2 linked regions of the Homo sapiens genome follow. Each later gene encodes a partner of the first gene's protein in a complex. Each region holds a gene or a part of one and is shown on either strand. Other genes may lie near its edges. The genes, in order: ANLN and RHOA.

Region 1 (12,308 bases):
GAGTTGTGCAACTGCACTCCAGCCTGAGTGACAGCGTCTGTCTCAAAAAAAAAAAAAAAAAAAAAAAAAGAAGATTTGCAAAATGTCTGTTTGCATGGGAGGAAAATTTAAGATGTTATATTTGATGTTCAATAAATTGACTCTGATATTTAGGAAACACTGGCTTCTGTTACTTCTGTAATATTTAAGAGTGACTTCTATGATATCACTAAAAAATTAAGTTTTGTAAAAATAGCTTTTTTTTTTTTTTGTTTTGAGATGGAGTCTCGCCTTGTTGTCCAGGCAGGAGTGCAGTGGCGTGATCTCGGCTCACTGCAAGCTCCGCCTCCCGGGTTCACACCATTCTCCTGCCTCAGCCTTCCAAGTAGCTGGGACTACAGGTGCCTGCCACCAGGCCCGGCTAATTTTTTTGTACTTTTAGTAGAGACAGGGTTTCACCGTGTTAGCCAGGATGGTCTCGATCTCCTGACCTCGTGATCCACCCGCCTTGGCCTCCCTAAGTGCTGGGATTACAGGCGTGAGCCACCACGCCCAGCCAAAAATAGCTTTAAGAAATCTAGGTATGGAAAAGAAAAGTTACCAATATAAAAAGTATAGTGTGATAAGTACATAAAATAATTCTTACTCTTTATGAAAGGATTTACTGTGGTCCTTTAAATATGAATTATCTTAATATCCTTATTAACCACGTGAGAAAATAAAAAGGAGATTAAAGTTGTATGCATTTTGAGATTAGTCTATTGAATAAAGGACTTATGCCTGTAGTTGCACTGGTTTTTGGAAACAATATAATATGTTCAGAAAGCACAATATGTTCATGCTCACTCTGGAATCTGAAACATCTTCATCAATTAAACTAGAAAAAAAATCTATGTGACACTAAGAATCATTAATAGTAAAGATTAATACCATTAATCATTAATAGTAGAGAGTAGTAACAAGTAAAATAGCCCTTTTCAATAACATATAGATAACATCCTTTGATGGTTGTTGTTTCTTCATTATAATAAATGTGTAGAACTAGAAATACCATTTGACCCAGCAATACCATTACTGGGTATATATCCAAAGGATTATAAATCATTCTACTATAAAGACACATGCACACATATGTTTACTGCGGCACTGTTCACAATAGCAAAGACTTGGAACCAACCCAAATGCCCATCAATGATAGACTAGATAAAGAAAATGTGGCACATATGCAGCATGGAATACTATGCAGCCATAAAAAAGGATGAGTTCGTGTCCTTTGCAGGGACATGGATGAAGCTGGAAACCATCATTCTCAGCAAACTAACACAGGAACAGAAAACCAAACACCGCATGTTCTCACTCATAAGTGGGAGTTGAACAATGAGAATGCATGGACACAGGGAGGGGAACATCACACACCAGGGTCTGTAGGGGGGTGGAGAGTTAGGGGAGGGATAGCATTAGGAGAAATACCTAATATAGATGACAGGTTGATGGGTTCAGCAAACCACCATGGCACGTGTATGCCTATGTAACAAACCTGCACGTTCTGCACATGTACTCCAGAACTTAAAGTATAATAATAATTTTAAAAAGTGTAAAAGAAGTGGCCCTTCAGCCAAATAACCTGAGGTAGAGAACTTGAGTTTAGCTCTTCTTGCCACTGCCTTATGATTAGGTCTTGGCCTTTTCTCTCCCTGTAAAAATAAAAAGATTTGTGTTATTGTATTACTTTGTGAATTAAGTATAAATAGTCTAAAAATTTTAAAATTAAATATAAATAGTATTTTAAAAAGTATAAAAATAGTATAAAATATAAAATACAAATGTGTGTGACTGTATTTTGAAAAATTAACTGTAAATATACAGCATTTGGAGGGTCTTTGTTGCAGTCCCTGCTTTCAAATTTTTGTGTTTTTCAGCCTTTTTATCAGCAATTTTATCTGCAAAAGACATAATTATTATTTCCTTTGTTTAAAAGAACAGGTCTTGGAGCAAATACTCATTTTCCAGGGCTATCTTTAATCTCTAGTTATTTCTACTTCAGACTCTTGGTTCTATTCTTAAATTAATGTATTATGTTGTGGGTTTTATTTAAATAACTTGGGAAGTTTTGTGTTTTATATAAATAAGTAGGGAAGACACTTTTGATGATTTAGGCCAATCCCTTAGCCTCTATGCATCTCAGTTTTCCCATCTCTAAAATAGGAATAAGAGTTATGCTTATATTCATTTATTTAACAAGTATCTACTGCACTCATGTGCCAGAAGGTGCTGGGTTACAGCTATAAACAAGTCCCTGCACTGCCACAGCTTACACTGTAGTAGGAAGGCCTAGCTAATAAACATAAACACATAACTAAAATAATGTCAGATAGTGGCAAATGTGATGAAGAAGTCAGAGTAATAGAATGGAAAGTGATTGGTGGGCAGAGAAGACGGGGGTGGCCACCTGATCAAAGAAGTCTTCTTTCAGGAGGTAGCACATGCAAGCTTAGGCCCAAATAACGAGGAGCAGACGTGCTAAATCTAGAGGAAGAGTGTCCAGGCAGTGGAAAGTCCTTGAGGCAGGAAGAAATTTGGCATTTTTTTATGACCAGAAAAAAGGCCTGAAGCTGGAGCATAGTGAAAAGAAAAAAAAAAAAAGGAAAGTATTGTGATGTTAGGAGAATACTAGGTTATTCGGAGAGGCAGGTAGATTCCAGATCATGCATGGCCTTGTAGGTATGATAAGGATATTATTGGATATCATTTTAATTACAACGAAAGACATAGAGCAGCTCCAAACAAGGAATTGACACTGCAAAATTTACATTTGAAAAAGATCCCTCTCTATAAATAAATTACTAAAACTAAAAAGATCAGCAACAACAAAGATACGTAGGAATAAATTTAACAAAAGTTTACAGATCTTTATGTAAGTTTGTTATAGACATTTTTAGCAGGTATAATGAAGATATACCATGCTCATAAATGGGTAGCATTGCTGTCACAAAGATGCGAATTCTCTCCAAATTATGTGATAAATTCAGTGCAATTTGAATTAAAAATCAGAAGAGGATTTTCTTTTCTTTTCTTTTTGGATCTTGAGAATCTGACCCTAAAATTCATGTGGAAGAACAATGAGGCAAAATAATCCAAGTTGAATTGGAATTTGCCCTACCAGATATCAACATTTATAACTAATATAGTGTGATATTGGGAGAGGAATAGATAGACCAGTAGAACAGAATAGAGTCCGACATAGACCTATGTGTACATAAAAAGTTGAGGCTGAACATAGTGGCTTACACCTGTAATTCCAGCACTTTGGAAGGCCAAGGTGGGAGGATCATTTGAGGCCAGGAGTTGGAGACCAGCCTGGGCAACAAAGTGAGATCCTGTCTCTACAAAAAATTTTAAAAAGTAGCGGGTTGTGGTGGCATGCACCTGTTGTCCCAGATACTTGGAAGGCTGAGATGGGAAGATTGCTTGAGGCCAGGAATTTGAAGCTGCAGTGAGCTGTGATCGTGCCACTGCACTCCAGCCTGGGTGACAGAGCAAGACCCTATTTCAAAAAATAAAATAAAATAAAATAAAATAAAATAAAATAAAATAAAATAAAATAAAATAAAATAAAATAAGATAAAGAAAGAACTGTTGGGTAGGCGCAGTGGCTCATGCCTATAATCCCAGCACTTTGGGAGGTCTAGTTGGGTGGATCACTTGTGGCCAGGAATTCGAGACTAGCCTGGCCAACATGGGGAAACCCCAACTCTACTAAAAACACAAAAATTAGCCAGATTTGGTGGCATATGCCTGTTGTCCCAGCTACTTGGGAGGCTGAGGCAGGAGAATCGCTTGAACCCGGGAGGCAGAGGTTGTAGTCAGCCGAGATCAGGCCACTGCACTCCAGCCTTGGCGAAAGAGCGAGACCCTGTCTCGGGAAAAAAAAAAAGAAAAGTTGATATATGATAAAAGTGGCATTACAGGTCAATGAGAGAAAGGATGGACAATTTAATAACTGCTGCTAAGACAACTGGTTATCCATACAAAAAACAAGATCAATCCAGATAGTTTAAAGACAAAAGCATGAAAAGCCATACTTTAAAATATTTAGAAGAAAGTACAGCAGAACATCTTTATTATCTCAGGGTATGGAAGGATTTCTTAAGGCATAAAAAACACAAATCCTAAAGGAAAATATATATGGTATATGTGTATGTGTATGTGTGTATGTGTGTGTGTGTGTGTGTGTGTGTATCATTAGTTATATTAAACATTTCTGTACATCTGAAACATCATAAAGTAAAAAGACAAGCCACAAACCAAAAAATTGGCAAGCCGAAAAACCAACCAAGTTTATTTTCCCAGAAAATAGTAAACAACCAACAAAAACCCTATAAATCCATAAGAAAAAGGCAAATAATTGCACAGAAAAATGGGCAAGGATATAAAGTTGAAAATCACAGAAAAAGAAAATTGAAAGTCCAATAAATAAAAAATCATGTTCACCTTCACTAGTGATAAGAGAAAGGCACTCAAACAAGAATGGCAAAATTTAAAATGTATCCACATATTGGGGAGGAACTAGAGCAGCAGCCAGGGGCATATACTACTGACTGGAGTATCATTTGTTATGACCATTTTGAAGAGCAGTTTATTTTTAATATCTGGTAATAATATTCCTAGGTATATTGCTCTAGAGAAAGTTTTGCATGTGCATATAAAGGATAGTCATGGCATCATGGGGTCTTTGGAATGAAAAACTGGAAATAAGCTAAATGTCCATTAACAGGATAATGGGTACATAAATTACAAGTATATTTGTATAATAAAATTTAGCAGTGAACATGAATGAAATGCAGCTACAGTTATTAGTGAGGATAAATCCCATAAAGATATTATTGGGCCAGAAAAAGTTGCAGAAAGACTTACATTCTGCAAATAAAATTTATATATAAAACACTAGATATTGTTATGGATATATATGTAGATGTGATAAAAGTATACATATTTCTATGGGAATGATAAACATCAAATCAAGATAGTTTTACCCTGGAAGAGTGGGAAGATGAATGAGAATAGGAAGGGACACACAGGAGACTTCAATTACATGTGGGATGTTTTGTATTTTTTTAAGCTAGGTGGCTGGTATATGGTTATGTTTTATTATTCACATTTTTATTGTATTTCATAACATAATTTTTTTGTTTTCAAATTTTTTTATTTGTTATATAACACAATTTTTAAAAAGATAAAAGTCATTCTAGCCTAGAAACTGAAGAATGAACTACCGGGGGTTAAGAATGAAAGGAGGTATAGTAGGAGACAATTGTAATACCCTAGGAGAGTAGACTTGAATATCTACCGTAGTTTCTGGCACATAGTAGGTGTTTCAGTCTTAGGAGTTATTTAATTGTGATGGTTGCCATTATCACTATCATCATCATTATCAAGGTAGAAACCAAAGACATAGTGGGATGGTGAGGGAAGATACACTAAATGTTGTGAGTAGCTATCTTATGCTAGGTGCTTTACCTCTTTTAGTCTTAACTAGAATCTAGTTGAGGTAGATACAAAGAAACTAAGGCTCATAGAAGTGATAGCCAGAAGGCACAACGGCTACATAAATTTCTAATGACTCATTTTCCAACGTTGTTTAAAACACGCATACACACACAGACACGCCCCAAATACATACACACCTTTCTTGTCACACTTGAAAAAAATGGAAGTATCTTTTTCCTTTGTTCATAAGTAACACATTCTGGGTTAAATATTAATAATTCCATATACTACACACTCGGACAGTGTCTTATTACTTATTATGAAATATTTTTGGATTATGTCTCTCCATTTTTCATCTGCCCCTCCTAACAACTCTGAGGAAATCAGGGCAGATGATTATTCCTGTTACACAGATAAGTAAACTAAAATACAAACAGGCTAAATCAGAAGTTCTTGTCCTGGTGTCCATGAACTTCACAAAATCCTGTTAAATAGTTTATGATTAAATGGTCATTTTTCTAGGTAGAGGGTCAGTTTTAACATATTTCCAAAGGAGTCCATGACTCCCCACAAAGGTTAAAAAAAAAAAAAACCCATGGGTTAACCGATTTGGCTAACTGGGTGGAGCCCTGACCCCAAGCAATATTTCCCTTACCTCTTGCCGTGATTTCAGTCACGTACAATTTATCATACAAAAATTCAAATTAAAAATATTAGTAAATTCTTTTTGTAATGTTGATTGACTGCTAAGATGGACATATTATTAAACATATTGAAACCACTCAGTTGGGAGGAATAGTTCTGTTTTGTTCAGCTCATGGACAGTCACTCTTAACTTTTCAGATGAACAAATCAAGAACTGTCATCTTTACCTGCACAGACTTGTTATAGAAGAAATGAATCTGATACAGAAATTATGTAACCTATCTTACAATTTGGAGTACTCTACAAAGAATAAGCAGGAGACACAGCCTTAGCTAGTGTGGAAAACGGGTCATGAGCTGAGAACAGGGTTTTCATTTCTTTGGACCAGTTTCTTTAACGTTTTCGGGTGTCCCTTCTCTCGGCAGTAAAAGGAAGGATTGAACTAGATAGAGGGCTTGTCAGAATTCCTCCCGCTCTAACACTGTACACAGTTGGATGGAATTTAAAATAAAAAATTGTGCATGAACGCTTCACACAGTCTGTTAATTTTAGCTTTATTTCATTGGCTTAGAGTGTCGGGGACCCACCGGAACTGGCTTTTCTGAGGGCCAGGCCTGCAGTCCCCCTTTTGGGGACTAGGAGTTGGGTGTGACCTAGGAAACAAAGCTACTGAAGGCCAACGGGCTAGCAGCACCTGAAACACAAGGGCTCTTTGTCTGGCTCTGTAGCCCAGGCTGGAATGCAGTGGTGTGATCTCTGCTCACTGCAACCTCCACCTCCCGGGTCCCAGTTCAAGCAATTCTCCTGCCTCAGCCTCCCGAGTAGCTGGGATTAGAGGCACGCGCCACCATGCCTATCTAATTTTTTTGTATTTTTAGTAGAGACGGGGTTTCACCATGTTGGCAAGGCTGGTCTTGAACTCCTGACCTCGTGATCTGCCCGCCTCGGCCTCCCACAGTGCTGGGATTATGTCCTGCCAACACAAGGGCTCTTAATCCTTTTTTTTTCTTTTTTGAGGCAGGGTCTCACTCTGCCGCCCAGGCTGGAGTGCAGTAGTGAGATCGCAGCTCACTGCAGCCATGACCTCCTGGGCTCAAGCGATCCTCCAGCCTCAGCCTCCCCAAATGCTGGGATTATAAGCATGCGCCACTACTCCCGGCCTTAATACTTTATTTAGGAATGAAGGAAGGCGGGAACACCCAAACGCGGTTGGTGTGAAGCAATCGCCTTAAAGCTGAGGGGAATGTGTGGTTGTTGGGGGTGGAGCCAGGAACCCGACGCCGTTGGAGAGCAGGAAGCGCCCCGCTGCCCGCCTCCACCCCGCGGCGAGGGCTGGGAGGGGGCCGGGAAGGAGGCGGGGCCGCCCCTGGGAACCACCCGGCCCGGCGCGGCCACGTGACCGAGCGCAGGGGCGGGGAGAGGGCGCCCCGGCTCCGCCCAGCGCGCATGCTCGCGGCTCGGCGCTGAAATTCAAATTTGAACGGCTGCAGAGGCCGAGTCCGTCACTGGAAGCCGAGAGGAGAGGACAGCTGGTTGTGGGAGAGTTCCCCCGCCTCAGACTCCTGGTTTTTTCCAGGAGACACACTGAGCTGAGACTCACTTTTCTCTTCCTGAATTTGAACCACCGTTTCCATCGTCTCGTAGTCCGACGCCTGGGGCGATGGATCCGTTTACGGAGGTGAGTGAGTTTGCGGGTGCAGCCAGCCATGACCCACCGCTCTAGGCCCCCACCCACCTTCCTCTGTCAACCTCTGGGCGAACCCCCACCGGGCGGAGGGCGCGTGTGTGCGCGCGTGCGCAGTGTGTGCGGGCCGGGGTCGCCGCGGCTGCGGCCTGCTGTGGTTGGTGGGTTCCTCTGAGATTTTGTTGTTTCGGTCCTACAGATAAAACTCAGGGAGGAAGGCTTTGAGTCTGTCCTAAAAGGCTGTTGCGAGAGGTCTTTCAGCCCCCGTTTTTACCATGTCCCTCTGCAGTCCTGGCGCAGCAAGAGTGAGGCGCAGGCCTGCGGAACGGGTCCTGCTGGAAGCAGCTGGAATGCCCTGCAGGGCGGGGTCCGGGGCCGGTGACTCAGTGCGGCTGCCGCCGGGAAAGGCAGTAGGATGTGTGATTTGCGGAGTTCACGCAGCCCGCAGGGGAGATGCTAATGAAATGACAGCAAAACGTTAAAATAAGCAGGTGCTAGAAACCACTGCATTCGTTCATAAAAAGCCAGTAGTTCCTTGAGATCCCATTGTTCAGCTAACTAACGAAGAAGTTCATACCCGGGACTGACCATTTTAATTGAAACAATGCAAGTGTACCGAGCAAAACTATCAGCTCACGATTTTAGAGCAAAGAAATAAACTTTTCGGTGTTTCTGGGGCATATCATTACAGTACTTATTTCATCTTTTGTTCCTTTGAGATTGCATATGGGTTACATGGTTATTGTGTCGATTTCTCTAGTTTTAGCTTTTGTGGAGAATGTGCGTTGTCACATTCAGGAGTGTTTTGTTGCCAGTTGTCCACTCTCTTTTATTCCAGGACAGTTCCTCTTTCTTTAGGCTGTTGTGCAAATTTCAAACTGTTAGTTTTTGAGTGTTGCAAAGTGGACCTAAAACTGTTTACACTGATTCAAAAACTTAAATGCTGTGAAGAGTGGTAATTCTTTCGGGGAGATGTAATTATAATTCTATAAGTTATGTATGAGATATTAATTACAGATTTCAGCAATTAGAGTTTACTTATATTCAAGCATGACATAATCTATTTTTCTGTTTCAAATTCTTAATCATCTTGGGACAAATACATCAATTTTTTTCACCTTCCTTAAAGGTTCTAATAGAAAAATCTAGAGCCTATTTTTGTATTAGCCTTAAAATAGGGCTGGTCATGCACCAAGTATCTTTCACTTACACTGAGGTCGAAAAGCGTGTATTTATTTTATCTAAACTAGAATACGATTCCTTAAAACATTAGCCCTATGTGTCTTCCTAAGTAACAGACAGGAACAAAGCATTTTTAAGTTGGCTGAAAATTGCACTTCATTTTACTTAAAAATGTCATTCTGAAGGTAGTACAAATCTCAACTGAAAGAAACTTTACCTGTTTAGATCGTTTTAGGATGTGCTCAGAAATATGTATGGTTTATATTATGAAAAGTTAGATCACTTGCAGTTGGAAAAACAGCTTAGACGTCTTTTCCTTAATAGGTAATGAATGAACTACTTGAATTGATTCCAACTCTTGGGTGCTTAATTATAGCATTCATAACATTTGCACAGTGAAATGAGCTACTGGTACAGTTGTCTATCAACTGAAAGTCAGTATAAAATGACTCTCTCAACCAGGGTTTCCTCTCAGAACCATGGTACACAGGAAAATTGAGAGACTATTTTCTCAATTCTCCCAAGGATAATTCAATGCCACCCTACAAACATAGGAAATAAGTCTATCATATTAACGCCAGCGTATTAGGGCTTAATTATTTTGGTAACTCCAGTTGAGAAAGGTTACAATCATGGTAAACTCTCTTTTCCTCAAACAAGACTGTTCTGCATTGGTCTTCCTCCCTGTGGTCGCTGATACTGTTCTGGCACTCTTTTTTTTTTTAAGACGGAGTCTCGCAGTGTCGCCCAGGTGACAAAACCATAAACTCACTACTCATAACGTCAAGAGTTTGAAGCTCTACTCACAGGTGATAGTCATCCCAGTACAAGAATACTACAAAGAAACCCAGAGTGAAGTGTACCAATCCAGAACTTTCTTTATAAAAACCTTAAAAGAGAAAAAGCTATAATTAAAATACTTCACAGAAGCATATTTTATTGTAGACGCTTTAGATCCTTTTATGTCTGCAGGCTGCATATAAATAAGTATGCAAATAAACATGCCACTACCATTTTTAGTGGAATTTCTCTTATTTTCCAGAATTAAATGAAGTTCCCTGGGGAAGAGCTGCTAGAGCATATTGAAAATAATAAGAAGTTAATTTATATTGAGTCTACTGTGTTAAAGAAGGCAAGGAAATTAGTAAAATCTCCTAGAAAAATTTGTCAGAGATGACTTTGGGGTGTATGTGGCAAAAGTTGTTCAGGGACTATAAGCTTCAGTTACCTGAGATTCATACATGTGGGCTATCCTACTTCTTGAATATGTTATTGCAGTGGTTTTTTTTTTTTTTTAATGCCTACACTGTTTGAGAAAGGTGTGATATTTCAAGGAATATACCTTGTATTTAAAAGAGTTTTAAAATTCCTGATATACTATTATAAGGAACGGCTACTTACATTTATTGAGCTATTGAGTTTATATATTTAAGATATATAATTTCTTTTAATTTAATAACCTTTGGTGTTTATAGCTTTACTTCACAGATTAGGGATCTTTTTTTGTGTATCTATTTAATTTTTTTTTAATCTGGGAATTTTTGAATCTAATGTAAGCAATAGAACATTCATATACGTTTGAATGACAAAATCACATTCTTTTGTTGTGACCTACTGCTCATGGTAACTGAAGCTGTACTGACTCACAAATGTTCTAACTGACCAGAATGGAATGTGGGCATGTCCACGAATGAATATAATTAGGCTAGTGTTGTATCTGGGAAGTGAGAGATATAGCAATTGAAAAATTACAAATTTATTAATTTAGAAAGGAGACATTATTTCTTTTTTCTTTTTTCGTTTTTTTTTTTGAGTCAGAGTCTCGTTCTCGCCCAGACTGGAGCTCAATGGTGCGATCTTGGCTCGGTGTCACTTCTGCCTCCCAGGTTCAAGTGATTCACCTGCCTCAGCCTCCCAAGTAGCTGGGACTACAGGCATGCACCACCATAACTGGCTAATTTTTGTATTTTTAGTAGAGATGGGGTTTCACCGTGTTTGCCAAGCTGGTCTCAAATTCCTAGCCTCAAGTGATCCGCCTGCCTTGGCCTCCCAAAGTGCTGGAATTACAAGCATGAGCCACTGTGCCCAGCAGAGACTTTCTTATAAAGGCTTACAGCCTACAGTGTGGCCATCCTGACAGGCTGGGAAACATATTTAATAGCTTCGGGCAGAGACTGGAAACAGGCACTTCAAGAGAGGAGAAGCTGGAACAGGGATTTATGCCTAAAGGGTTAGCCAGGTATACATATTCAACAGGTTATAGGCAGAGCTATGAGTATTTACAAAGGGGTCCTGATGGGTGGGTACTGAACAAACGTGCAGTTACATGCATCCCATGTTCACTTTGGGATGAAGACTTAACGTGGAAATACATTACAGTTGGGCCCTATATGTCAAAAGGTGAGGTGGGGACATGAAGGCATTCAAGTGAGCAGCCTCTGTAAACTGGCCAGAATCAGTTCATGGTTGGTGGTCTTCTTACTGAGATAGATTTATTGAAATCAATCTCTTGTCCAATTAAAGCTGTAGCTGTAGCTTGTGGAGCAGGAGGGTTAGTCAGTGTCTGATGGAAGATGAGCTGCAATTGTTTTAATATTTATTGCTTATCTCAAGGTCAGTGCTTGTTCAGCTACTAGAGTAAAAGAAAAACTTTGGCAGTTAGAAGATAGTTTATTTTTTAAGTGTAGGGAGTTTGTGACTTAACCCTTGCCTGGCATGGCCTTAGGTCCTAGTTATTTGTTTACAGACAGGGTCTCACTCTGTTACCCAGGCTGGAGTGCAGTAGCGATCACAGCTCACTGCAGCCTTGAACTCCTGGGCTGAAGTAATCCTTTTGCTTCAGCCACCCCACCCCCCAGGTAGCTGGGACTACAGATGTGCCCCACCATGCCTGGCTAACTTTTGTATGTTTTGCAGAGACAGGATCTTGCTTTGTTGCCTAGGCTTGATCCTGTTTATAATTTGATATCTTATTGCTACAAAGAGTCTTCTGTCAGTCTTATGATCTCTATTTAACATTAATGCTCATCAGTTATTGTGTTTAAACAGCAAAAGGAGGGGTATAACAAGGTGCATGCGGCCTCCTGTTCCATCATGGCTGAGAACTCGGTTTTTAAGGTTTCTCTGGGGTCCCCTTCATCAAGAGGGGATCTGTTCAGTTGGTTGGGAGGATTAGTATTTTATTTTTAGTTCTCATATTGTATCATGGGGGGAAATTATCGGACATATATGGATTTGTGAAACAATATGCTTATTCTTGAATTTGTTGAAGGACTTTTATTTAGCGGGTGAAGGTCTTGTATTTTGGAAGCCATTTGGTTCATAAATTATT
Region 2 (12,354 bases), on another chromosome or scaffold:
AAATGGAAAGGCGTCCATGTTCATATGTCAGAAGACTTAACATTGTAAAGATGACAGTACTCCCCAAATCGATCTGTAGATTCAGTGTAATTCCTATCAAAATTCCAGCTGGCTTTTTTGCAGAAATTGACAAACTGTTACTAAAATACATACCAAAATTCAGGGGACCCAGAATAACCAAAATAATCTTGGAAAAAAACAAAGCTGGAGGACTCACACCTCCAGATTTTAAAACTTACTGCAAAGCAACAGTAATCAAGACTGTGGTACTAGTATAAAGGTGGACAATATAGACCAATGGAATAGGATTAATCCAAAGTAAACCCTCAGTTGCTAATTAGTTGATTTCTCAAGTGTGCCAGGACCATCCAGTTGGGGGGAAAATAGTCTTTTCAGTAAATAATGCTGAGGTGACTAGATTTCCAAATGAAAAAGAATGAAGTTGGACCCCTTACCTCATATCATGTATGAAAATTAACTCAAAATGAATCAAAGGCCTAAAGTGTAAGACTTAAAACTATAGAAAGAAGCATATATATTTTTTTTACGACCTTGAATTTGGCTGTGGTATTTTAGATATGCCACCAAACCATCAGTAACCAAAGGGAAAAATAGATAAATTTGACTTCAACAAAATAAAAAACGTTGTGCCCCAAAGGGCATCATCAAAAAAATAAAAAAAACAACTGAGTTTAAAAATGGGCAATGGGGGCTGGGTGCGGTGGCTCATTGCTGTAATCCTAGCACTTTGGGAGGCCGAGGCAAGTGGATCACCTGAGGTCAGGAGTTTGAGACCAGCCTGGTCAACATGGTAAAACCCCGTCTCTACTAAAAATAAAAAAATTAGCCAGGCGTGGTGGCAGACGCCTCCCAGCTATTTGGGAGGCTGAGGCAGGAGAATTGCTTGAACCTGGGAGGCGGAGGTTGCAGTGAGCCAAGATCGCGCCACTGCACTCCAGCCTGGGCGACAGAGTAAGACTCTGTCTCAGAAAAAAAAAAAAAAAGGTAGGGGGGCAATGGACCAGGCGCAGTGGCTCACCCCTGTAGTCCCAACACTTAGGGAGCCAACACGGGAGAATCACTTGAGGCTAGGAGTTTGAGACTAGCCAGGGCAACACAGCAAGACCCTGTCTCTACATAAAAGATAATTAAATTTGTTTTTCCCCCGAGACAGTCTTGCTGTCACCCAGACTGGAGTGCAGTGGTGCCATCTCAGCTCACTGCAACCTCCGCCTCCCAGGTTCAAACAATTCTCCTGCCTCAGCCTCCCGAGTAGCTGGGATTACAGGTGCCTGCCACCACGCTAGGCTAATTTTTGTGTTCATAGTAGAGAATGGTTTCACCATGTTGGCCAGGCTGCTGGTTTCGAACTCCTGACCTCAAGTGATCTGCCCATCTGAGCCTCCCAAAGTACTTGGATTACAGGCGTGAGCCACTGCACCCAGCCAAGATAATTAAATTTTTAGAAAGTGGGGGCATCACTTGAGCCCAGGAGTTTAAGACCATCCTGGGCAACATGGTGAAACTCCATCTTTACAAAAAAAACACAAAAATTAGCTGGGCGTGGTGTGTGTGCCTGTACTCCTAGCTACTTGGGAGACTGAAGTGGGAGGATTACCTGAGCCTGGGAGGTCAAGGTTGTGGTAAGCCATGATAACACCACCTCACTCCAGCCTGGATGACAGTGAGACCCTGTCTCAAAAAAAAAAAATTAAAAGTTGTAAAAGAAATACTGTTATTTGTGTATTGTTACTGGTGACTTAATTAGATATAACTGACTTTTGGTTAAATAAACCTCTACTCCAAACTTATAAGTTATTTCTGAGACTAAACCTAGCCTGGAAAATGACACGTCTGGGAGAGCTAAGCGTGATTTCCTTTCTTGACAAACCATGTACTTGTAAAGAATGCTGCATTATAGCAAAGTGGAAAGGAGAGATAATTCTGCAAAATTTCTCCTGCGTTTTTCAAGGAGAAAACAGCAAGTTTGATTTTCTGTGCTTGTACTTTTTACTTCTCAACTTCTGTGTATTGCCGCACTCCCAGTATCCCAGAAATCACTTAGGCTTTCATTTTGTCCGATAATCACTTGTAATTTTTGTCTTTGTCACCATTAGTGGCTAAATGATTTTATTCTTTTTCTGGGCCAAATGTTCTTTATCAGATATTTTTCTTTTTCTTTTCTTTCTTTTTTCTGAGACACAGTCTCACTCTGCCGCCCAGGCTGTAATGCAGTAGTGCAATCTCGGCTCACTGCAACCTCCACCTCCCAGGTTCAAGTGATTCTCGTGCCTCAGCCTTCCAAGTAGCTGGGATTACAGGCAGATGCCACCATGCCCGGCTAATTTTTGTATTTTCAGTAGAGACGGGGTTTTGCCATGTTTGCCAGGCTGGTCTCGAACTCCTGACCTCAAGTGATCCGCCTACCTCAGCCTCCCAAAGTGCTGGGATTATGGGCGTGAGCCACCGTGCCTGGCTGGACTAGGGTCTTTAAACGTGAATTCCCTCCCTATAAGCAAAGGTGGAGACAGAGTCTGGACATTCTAGGAAGGGAAGGCACAAACAGAATAGAAGACACATGCAGTAATCTCAGACACACCAGAGCACCCGGAAGGAATGGAGTGCAGGCTGAAAGTGCAGAGGGGAAGGTGGGGCTGGAGAGGGCCCAAGGACAGGCAATGATTTATTCCCCATCTATAAGGAAACTTTTCAAACCATAACAGAAGATTTAAGTCAATACTGGAACAAATATTGTGGGCATGTTGAACTATAAACAAAGCAAAGATAGCTCTTTTTTTTTTTTTTTGAGATGGATTCTCGCTCTATAGACCAGGCTGGAGTGCAGTGGTGTGATCTCAGCTCACTGCAAGCTCCACCTTCCGGGTTCACGCCATTCTCCTGCCTCAGCCTCCCGAGTAGCTGGGACTACAGGCGCCTGCCACCATGCCCGGCTAATTTTTTGTATTTTTAGTAGAAATGTTAGCCGGGATGGTCTCGATCTCCTGACCTCGTGATCTGCCCGCCTCGGCCTCCCAAAGTGCTGGAATTACAGGCGTGAGCCACCACACCTGGCCGAAAGAGATTATTTCTCAAGAATTGAATGTCTTCTAGGTAGGGTGCTACGCAAAGGTGGCAGCCTTTTCTTTTTCTTTTTCTTTTTTTTTTTCTGATACGATGGAGTTTTGCTCTTGTCGCCCAGGCTGGAGTGCAATGGCGCTAACTCGGCTCACTGCAACCTTTGCCTCCTGTGTTCAAGTGATTCTCCTGCCTCAGCATCTCAGTAGTTGGGATTACAGGTGCCCACCACCACGCCCACCTAATTTTTGTATTTTTAGTGGATATGGGGTTACACCATGTTGGTCAGGCTTGTCTCGAACTCCTGACCTCAGGTGATCCACCCACCTCTCAAAGTACTGGGATTGCAGGCATGAACCCCAGCACACTCGGCCAAAGCAGCCTTTTCTTGAACTGGGGAATTCCTGTTGACGTTTCTTTGCATCCCATAGGGTCCTGGTTGTTTGACTTTGGGCAAAAGCCCATGCAGATTAGGCCTTATGAGAGATGTAAAGTTTATTAAATCTTTATTTGGTGAGACAGGGTCTTACTGTGTCACTCAGGCTGGAGTGTAGTGGCATGATTTCAGCTCACTGCAACCTCTGCCTCCTGTACTCAAGTGATCCTCCCATCTTAGCCTCCTGAGTAGCTGTGACCACAGATGCGCACCACCACAGCCAGCTAATTTTTTGTATTTTGGGTAGAGATGGGGTTTCACTGTGTTGTTTAGGATGGTCTCCAACTCTTAGGCTCAAGCAATTTGCCTGCCTTGGCTTCCCAAAGTGCTGGGATTACAGGTGTGAGCCACCACGCCCAGTGTCTATTTTTTTATTTTATTTATTTATTTATTTTTGAGACGGAGTCTCTCTCTGTCACCCAGGCTGGAGTGCAGTGGCACGATCTTAGCTCACTGCAAGCTCCACCTCCTGGGTTCACCCCATTCTCATGCCTCAGCCTCCTGAGTAGCTGGAACTACAGGCGCCCTTCACGACGCCTGGCTAATTTTTTGTATTTTTAGTAGAGACGGGATTTCACTATGTTAGCCAGGATGGTCTCGATCTCCTTACCTCGTGATCTGCCCACCTCAGCCTCCCAAAGTGCTGGGATTACAGGTGTGAGCCACCATGCCCGGCCAATATTTTTTTATTTTTATGAGATAGGGTCTTGCTATTTTGCCCAAGCTGGTCTCAAACTCTGGACTCTAGCTGTCTTCCCACCTCAGCCTCCTGAGTAGATGGGATTACAGGCATGAGTTGCCACACTTGACTCTAACTGGGGAACTTCACTCTCTGTCTTTTTTTTTTTTGAGACGAATTTTCGCTCTTGTTGCCTAAACTGGAGTGCAGTGGCACGATCTCAGCTCACTGCAACTTCCTCCTCCCGGGTTCAAGTGATTCTCCTGCCTCAGCCTCCTGAGTAGCTGAGATTACAGGTGCGGACCACCATGCCCGGCTAATTTTTCTATTTTTAGTAGAGATGGGGTTTCACCATGTTGGTCAGGCTGGTCTCGAACTCCTGACATCGTGATCCACAGGCCTCGGCCTCCCAAAGTGCTGGGATTACAGGCGTGAGCCACCATGCCAATCCTTTTTTTTTTTTGACAGAGTCTCACTGTGTTGCCCAGGCTGGAGTGCAGTGGCGCGTTCTCAGCTCACTGCAACCTCCGCCTGCCTAATTCAAGTGATTCTCATGCCTCAGCATCCTGAGTAGCCTTTCAGGGGTTACAGGTGCCTGCCACCAACCCAGCTAACTTTTTTTTTTTTTTTGAGACGGGGTTTTTCTCTTGTTTCCCAGGCTGGAATGCAATGGCGAGATATCGGCTTACTGCAGCCTCTGCCTCCTGAGTTCAGGAGATTCTCCTGCCTCAGCCTCTCGAGTAGCCGGGATTATGGGTACATGCCACTACGTCCAACTTATTTTTATATTTTTTGTAGAGACGGGGTTTCACAATGTTGGCCAGGCTGGTCTTGAACTCTGGACCTCAAGTGATCCGCCTACCTCAGCCTCCCAAAGTGCTGGCATTACAGGCATGAGCCATTACTCCTAGCCTTGACTGCATGCTCTTGTTTGAAGATATGCATTGAGCACATTTCCCTATCATCGATATGCTTCTTATTGTGCTTTCATGATTAGTAGTATCTTCAATTTACTCCCTTTTTGCAAAAAAAAAAAAAGTTACTAGATTTTGTAGATTTGGATAAAATTCTATAATATCTGTATCTATATATATACACACACACGTATTCACTGCTGTATGTAATATTGTCCTGAGAATTCACAAATGAGTAATGGCAGCACTGTCAGCCCTCTGAGTTTTTTTGTTTTGTTTTCATTGTTTATTTTTGTCGTTGTTTGCCCTCTGAGTTTTCTTCTGGTACCCCTGTGGATTGTCTTATCCATTCTGGTTGGGGAACATACCCTTTAGACAATATAGTTTTGATAATGAGTATTTATTATTATTATTATTATTATTATTATTATTATTATTATTATTATTTTTGAGACAAGAGTCTCTGTCACCCAGGCTGGAGTGCAGTGGCATGATCTTGGCTCACTGCAACCTCCACCTCCCAGGTTCAAGCGATTCTCTTGCCTCACCCCACCACGCCTGGGTAATTTTAATATTTTTAATAGAGATGGGGTTTCATATGTTGGCCAGGCTGGTCTCAAACTCCTGACCTCGTGATCTGCCCGCCTCGGCCTCCCAGTGTGCTGGGATTACAGGCGTGAATCACCATGCCCAGCTGAGTGTATATAATTTAGGATTAGTTTGACTATAGGTAACAGAGACTTGAAAAATACCACCTTAAATAAGACAGTCATTTATTTCTCATTCATATGGAAGAAACATGGAAGGTAGGCAGTCTTGGGGCTGAGATGGTGGCTCCCAAGATCACCTGAGATCCAGGCTCCTTTTTACCTTTTGGTTCTTCCAGCCCCACGGTATGGCATTCATTCTCACATACCAGGATGGCTGCTTAGAAACCAGCCCTTACTTTAGATTTAAGCAGCAGGAAAGGAGGAGGATAATAAAGACTTCCCTTTAAGAAAGACTTTCTGGAAGTCCCACAACATACTGCTGATTCTCACATCTCATGGTACATGGCCATGTCTCCAAGGGAAGCTAGGAAGTGTAGTCTACAACAAAGTACATAGCTAAAAATCGAAGTATGGTCTAGGAGGGAAGGGCGGGAATTGGGATGGTTGACCATCACTGTCTGCCAGATGGAAGGAATCTGCAGATTTCTCTCTTTTTTCCCCCCACTGGGGGCGAGAGTGGTGGTAACAGCTTTATTGAAATATAATCCACATATCTTACAATTCACCTTTTTAAAGTGTGAATTATATATACTGTGGGCTGGGTGCGGTGGCTCACGCCTGTAATCCCAACACACTGGGAGAGACAGGCAGGAGGATCGCTTGACCTCAGGAGTTTGAGAGCAGCTGGGGCAACGTGGTGAAACCCGGTCACTACTAAAAATACAAAAAATTAGCCGGGTGTGGTGGCATGCACCTTTAGTTCCAGCTACTTGGGAGACTGAGATTGGAGGTTCACTTGAGCCTGGGGAGGCTAAGGTTGCAGTGAGTGGAGATCGCACCACTATACTCCAGCCTGGGCAACAGAGTGAGACCCTGTCTCAAAATAAATAAAATGTGTGAATTATATATACTATAATCAATAGTTTATAGTATATTCATAGAGTTGTGCAGCCATCACCACAATAATTTTGGAAAAATCTTTTTACCTGAGAAACTCCAGTATTCCATTAGTCATTTTCCATTTCTCTCCACCCCCAAGTCCCTGCCCTAGGCAACTACCAGTCTATTTTCTCTTTCTGAATTTGTTTATTCTGGACAATTTTATATAAATGGAATCATGCATGTTGGTTTTTGTGACTGGGTTCTTTCACTTATATAACATTTCCAAGATCTATCCATACTATAGCATATATCAGTACTTTATCCTTTATCGCTGAATAATATTCCATTCCATTGTATGGATATATTATATTCATCAGTTGTTGGATATTTGGGTTCTTTACATTTTTTGACAATATATTATGAATAATCCTGCTATGAATATTCATGTAGAGGTACAAGTTGTTATGTGGACATATGTTTTTGTTTCTCTTAGATATATACCTAGGAATAGAATTGCAGGGTCATACCTACTCACATCCTTTGCTCATTTTTTAATTGGATTAGATTATTTGTCTTTTTATTATTGAATTGTAAGAGTTCTTTATTTTTTAATTTTTTCTATATACTGTATTTAGGCCTGGGGAGGTGGCTTATGCTTGTAATCCCAGCACTTTGGGAGGCTGAATCGGGAGGATTGCATGAGCCCAGGAGTTTGAGACCAGCCTGGGTAATATAGTGAAACGCTATCTGTATAAAAATTAGTCAGCTGTGGTGGCAGGAGCCTGGTAGTCCCAGCTACTGGAGAGGTTGAGGTGGGAGGATCGCTTGAGTTGAGCCTGGGAGGCAGAGGCTGCAGTGAGCCAATATTGCACCACTGCATTCCAGCCTTGGTGACAGAATGAGACCCTTTCTGAAAATAACTACATAATAGAGAAACACATAGATAGGTTAGATAGGTACATAGATTGGATAGATGCGTAGATAGATGGGCAGTGGCTCACGCCTGTAATCCCTCAGCACTGTGGGAGGCCGAGGCGAGTAGATCACTTGAGCTCAGGAGTTGGAGACCAGCCTGGGAAACATGGCAAAACCCTGTCTCTGCCAAAAATACAAAAATTAGCTGGGCGTGGTGGCGCATGCCTGTGGTCCCAGCTGCTGGGGAATTTGAAGTGGGAGGATCACTTGAGCCTCGGAGGTGGAGATTGCATTGAGCCAAGATCACGCCACTGCATTCCAGCCTGGGTGACAGAGTGAGACCTCATCTCAAAAAAAAAAAAAAAAAAAAAAAAGATAGATGGATAGATAAATAGCGTACTTCATGTCAGAAGGAGTTCTCTCTTTTTTTTTTTTTTTTTTTTTAAGACACAGTTTCACTCTGTTGCCCAGGCTGGAGTGCTCTGTTGCCCAGGCTGGAGTGCAGTGGTACAATCTGGGCTCACTGCAACTTCTGCCTCCTGGGTTCAAGCGATTCTCCTGCCTCAGTCTCCCGAGTAACTGGGATTACAGGTGCCCACCACCACACCCGGCTAAGTTTTGAATTTTTTGTAGAAACGGGGTTTTGCTGGGTTGGTCAGGCTGGTCTCGAACTCCTGACCTCAAGTGTTCTGCTTGCCTCAGCCTCCCAAAGTGCTGGGATTACAGGTGTGAGCTACCGTGCCCAGCCCAAAAAGAGTTCTTTATGATTTCAACCTTGCAAGAGATCCTGAGCCAGACCACCAACCTAAGCTGCTTTTTTGTAGTTGAGTCATAAGAGTTTGAGACAAGGTTCCACTCTGTCACCCAGGCTGGAGTGCAGTGATGCAATCATAGCTCACCACATCCTCCACCTCCTGGGCTCAAGCAATCCTCCCACCTCAGCCTCCTTGGTAGCTGGGACTACAGGTGCATGCTACCACAACTGGCTGATTTTTTTTTTTTTCTTTTCCTTCTTTTTTTAGAGACAGTGTCTCACTGGGGTTCCCCAGGCTGGAGTGTAGTGATGCAATCTCAGCTCACTGCAGCTTCCACCTCCAGGGCTCAGGGGATTATCCCACCTGAGCCTCCCAAGTAACTGTGATTAGCATGCACCACCGCTCCTGGCTAATTTTTTGTATTTTTAGTAGAGACAGGGTTTCACTATGTTTCCCAGGCTCGTCTTGAACTCCTGGACTCTCAAGCAGTCCACCTGTTTCGGCCTCCCAGATTGCTGGGATTATAGGCGTGAGCCACTGCGCCCGGCCCTTTTCTTTCTCCCCTCCCCTCTCATGCTTCCGTCCGTCCTTCCTTTCTCAGTGTCTCACTATGTTGTCAGGGCTGGTCTCTTAACTCCTGGGCCTGAGCATTCCTCCTGCTTCAGTCTCCCAAAGTGTTGGGATTACAGACATGAACCACTGTGCTCGGCCTCAATTGATTTTTCTTTTTTGAGACGGAGTTTCGCTCTTGTTGCCCAGGCTGGAGTGCAATGGCATGATCTCGGCTCACCACAACCTCTGCCTCCCGGGTTCAAGCGATTCTCCTGCCTCTTGCTCCTGTGTAGCTAGGATTATAGGCATGTGCCACCACGCCTGGCTAATTTTGTATTTTTGGTAGAGATGGGGTTTCTCCATGTTGGCCAGGCTGGTCTCAAACTCCTGACCTCAGGTGATCTGCCTGCCTCGGCCTCCCAAAATGCTGGGATTATAGGCGTGAGCCACCGCGCCCAGCCAAGAATGCTGTTTCTTTACAAACAAATCTAGATTGGTAAAAGAAGGAATATCCAAACTTAGAAAGATTGCAGAATGTCTACCCAAACAACCTGCCGATGACTTTTTTGGTTCTTTCCTCCCTTGGGTACTCCCTTTCATCAGTCCTTTCATTGTTTTTACCCTGCTTGACAAATTGTTTCCTTTTTTTTTTTTTTTTTTTTTGTGAGATGGAGTCTTACTCTGTCCCCCAGGCTGGTGTGCAGTGGCCCGATCTTGGCTCACTGCAAGCTCTGTCTCCTGGGTTCACGCCATTCTCCTGCCTCAGCCTCCCAAGTAGCTGGGACTACAGGTGCCTGCCACCATGCCCGGCTAGTTATTTGTATTTTTAGTAGAGATGGGGTTTCTCCGTGTTAGCCAGGATGGTCTCGATCTCCTGACCTCGTGATCCACCCGCCTCGGCCTCCCAAAGTGCTGGGATTATAGGCGTGAGCCACTGCGCCTGGCTCAATTGATTTTTTAATGTTAATATTGTATCCTGCAACCTTACTGAACTTGTTTATTCTAAAAGTTTTCTTTAGGATTTCCCACATTACAAAATCATCTCATGTGTGAATTGAGATAGTTTTACTTCTTCCTTTCCAATTTGGATGTCTTTTATTTCATTTTCTTACCTTATTGCCCTGGCTAGGACCTCCAGTATCCTGCTGGATAGAAGTAGCAAGAACAGGCCAGGCGTGGTGGCTCACGCCTGTAATCCCAGCACTTTGGGAGGCTGAGGCAGGTGGATCACCTGAGGTCAGGAGTTCAAGACCAGCCTGGCCAACAAGGTGAAACCCCATCTCTATCAAAAATTAGCTGGATGTGGTGGTACGTGCCTGTAATCCCAGCTACTTGGGAGTCTGAGGCAGGAGAATTGCTTGAACCCGGGAGGCTGGAGGTTGCAGTGAACTGAGATTGGGCCAGTGCACTCCAGCCTGGGCGACAGAGTGAGACTCCGTCTCAAAAAAAAAAAGAAGTGGCAAGAACAGACATTCTTGTCTTGTTCCTGATCTTAGGGGGCAGACCTTTTTTTCAGTCTTTTACCATTAAGTATAATGTTAGTTACGAGTTTTTAATGTATAACCTTTTGGTGCCAGGTGGATCGGCGTACTAGAAGTTTGAATTTGAGTATGCTAATAGAGGTTTATGCCCCATGGTTACCAAAGCATGTGTCATCCTGTAAGCTACCTATGACTTCTTGTGCATTGCAGGTAATATCTGTGTTTTGTGTTTCAGCAATGGCTGCCATCCGGAAGAAACTGGTGATTGTTGGTGATGGAGCCTGTGGAAAGACATGCTTGCTCATAGTCTTCAGCAAGGACCAGTTCCCAGAGGTGTATGTGCCCACAGTGTTTGAGAACTATGTGGCAGATATCGAGGTGGATGGAAAGCAGGTGAGTATACTTTTCATAACAACTGATGCCATTTTCCATGTTAGAATATTTATGGAGCATGTAGAGAATTAGAGCTTTTTGCCTCTTCAGTATACCATATAACAAAAATGTTGGAAAGAAGAATCCATTCTCATCCTGCCATCTTAGTCCAAGTTTGTTCTTTTTTTTTTTTTGGAGACGGAGTCTCATTCTGTTGCCCAGGCTAGAGTGCAGTGGCTCGGTCTTGGCTCACTGCAACCTCTGCCTCCCAGGTTCAAGTGATTCTCCTGCCTCAGCCTCCCAAATAGCAGGGATTACAGGCATGTTGCCACCATGCTGAGCTCATTTTTCGTTTAGTAGAGATGGGGTTTCACCAGGCTGGTCTCAAACTTCTGACCTCGGGTGATCCACCCACCTCAGCCTCCCAAAGTGCTGGGATTACAGGAGTGAGCCACTGTGCCCAGCCTTCCCCCAGGTTTAAAGGATTCTCCTGCCTCAGCCTCCCCAGTAGCTGGGATTACGGGAATATGCCACCACACCTGGCTGATTTTTGTATTTTTAGTAGAAATGGGGTTTCACTACGTTGGCCAGGCTGGTCATGAACTCCTGACCGCAGGTGATTGGCTGTTTTTTCATTTTTAACTGCTACTCATCCAGACTTTGTTTACATTCATATGTATTTGACATGGTGTCCTTAGCATATGTGTTTTTTTTTTGTTTTGTTTTGTTGTTTGAGACAGAGTCTCGCTCTGTCGCCCAGGCTGGAGTGCAGTGGTACAATCTCAGCTCGCTGCAACCTCCACCTCCCGGGTTCAAGCAATTCTTTTGCCTCAGCCTCCAGAGTAGAGTAGCTGGGATTACAGGCGCACGCCGCCATGCCTGGCTAATACTTGTATTTTGTAAAGATGCAATTTTGCCATGTTGGCCAGGCTGGTCTCAAGCTCCTGACCTCAGATGATCCACCTGCCTCAGCCTCCCAAAGTGCTGGGATTACAGGCGTGAGCCACCTTGCCCAGCCATATGTGCTCTTTTCAAGTTTACGTATATTTGAAGTTTAGTTCATTGCCATATAGATAATGCTCAGATGAACTTCTTTGTATGCTTGGACTTTGACAAAAATTCTGTCAAAGTATTTAATCAGATGTCCCAGTATTAGATTACTAGTTCAAGCTCTGCCTCCTGGGTTCACGCTGTTCTCCTGCCTCATCCTCCCAAGTAGCTGGGACTACAGGTGTCCACCACCAGACTGGCTAATTTTTTGTATTTTTAGTAGAGACGGGGTTTCACCGTGTTAGCCAGGATGGTCTCGATCTCCTGATCTTGTGATCTGCCCGTCTCGGCCTCCCAAAGTGCTGGGATTACAGGCATGAGCCACTGTGCCCGGCCAAAAGATTTTTTTTTACTTTAACATAAAATAGCCTGCCACAGTTGTTTTATTTTATTGTCATTGATGGTGAGAACAGTGCTTCCCCATTTCTGTCCTAAAAGCCCTCTGGCAAGACTGGAACAAAGCTCTTGTGAAATTGGAGGGTTTTTTTGGGTTTTAATTTTGGTTTTGGTTTGTTTTTGTTTTTTTTTTTAAT

Evidence for each region.
Region 2: the proteins of ANLN (region 1) and RHOA are in contact, whole or in part, in a crystal structure (PDB 4XOI), measured with the Homo sapiens proteins. Residues at the interface, in NP_061155.2 of Homo sapiens: Met729, Thr732, Val733, Tyr735, Gln736, Ala737, Gln739, Ala740, Cys743, Cys744, Glu748, His749, Gly750, Ser753, Glu755, Glu758, Ala759, Leu762; in NP_001300870.1 of Homo sapiens: Tyr34, Val35, Pro36, Thr37, Val38, Phe39, Glu40, Asn41, Trp58, Asp65, Tyr66, Arg68, Leu69, Pro71, Leu72, Pro75, Asp76.

The regions. Positions count from the first base shown.
Region 1 is NC_000007.14:36,382,256-36,394,563, forward strand, and holds the start of ANLN (anillin), read left to right. Parts: upstream 1-7,606; 5' UTR 7,607-7,711; coding exon of another isoform or gene 7,712-7,771; coding exon 7,772-7,789; coding exon of another isoform or gene 7,790-7,819; exon of another isoform or gene 7,820-8,102; intron 8,103-12,308. UniProt on the Homo sapiens protein: Required for cytokinesis. Essential for the structural integrity of the cleavage furrow and for completion of cleavage furrow ingression. Plays a role in bleb assembly during metaphase and anaphase of mitosis.
Region 2 is NC_000003.12:49,373,872-49,386,225, reverse strand, and holds part of RHOA (transforming protein RhoA isoform 1 precursor), read left to right. Parts: intron 1-10,634; 5' UTR 10,635-10,636; coding exon 10,637-10,792; intron 10,793-12,354. UniProt on the Homo sapiens protein: Small GTPase which cycles between an active GTP-bound and an inactive GDP-bound state.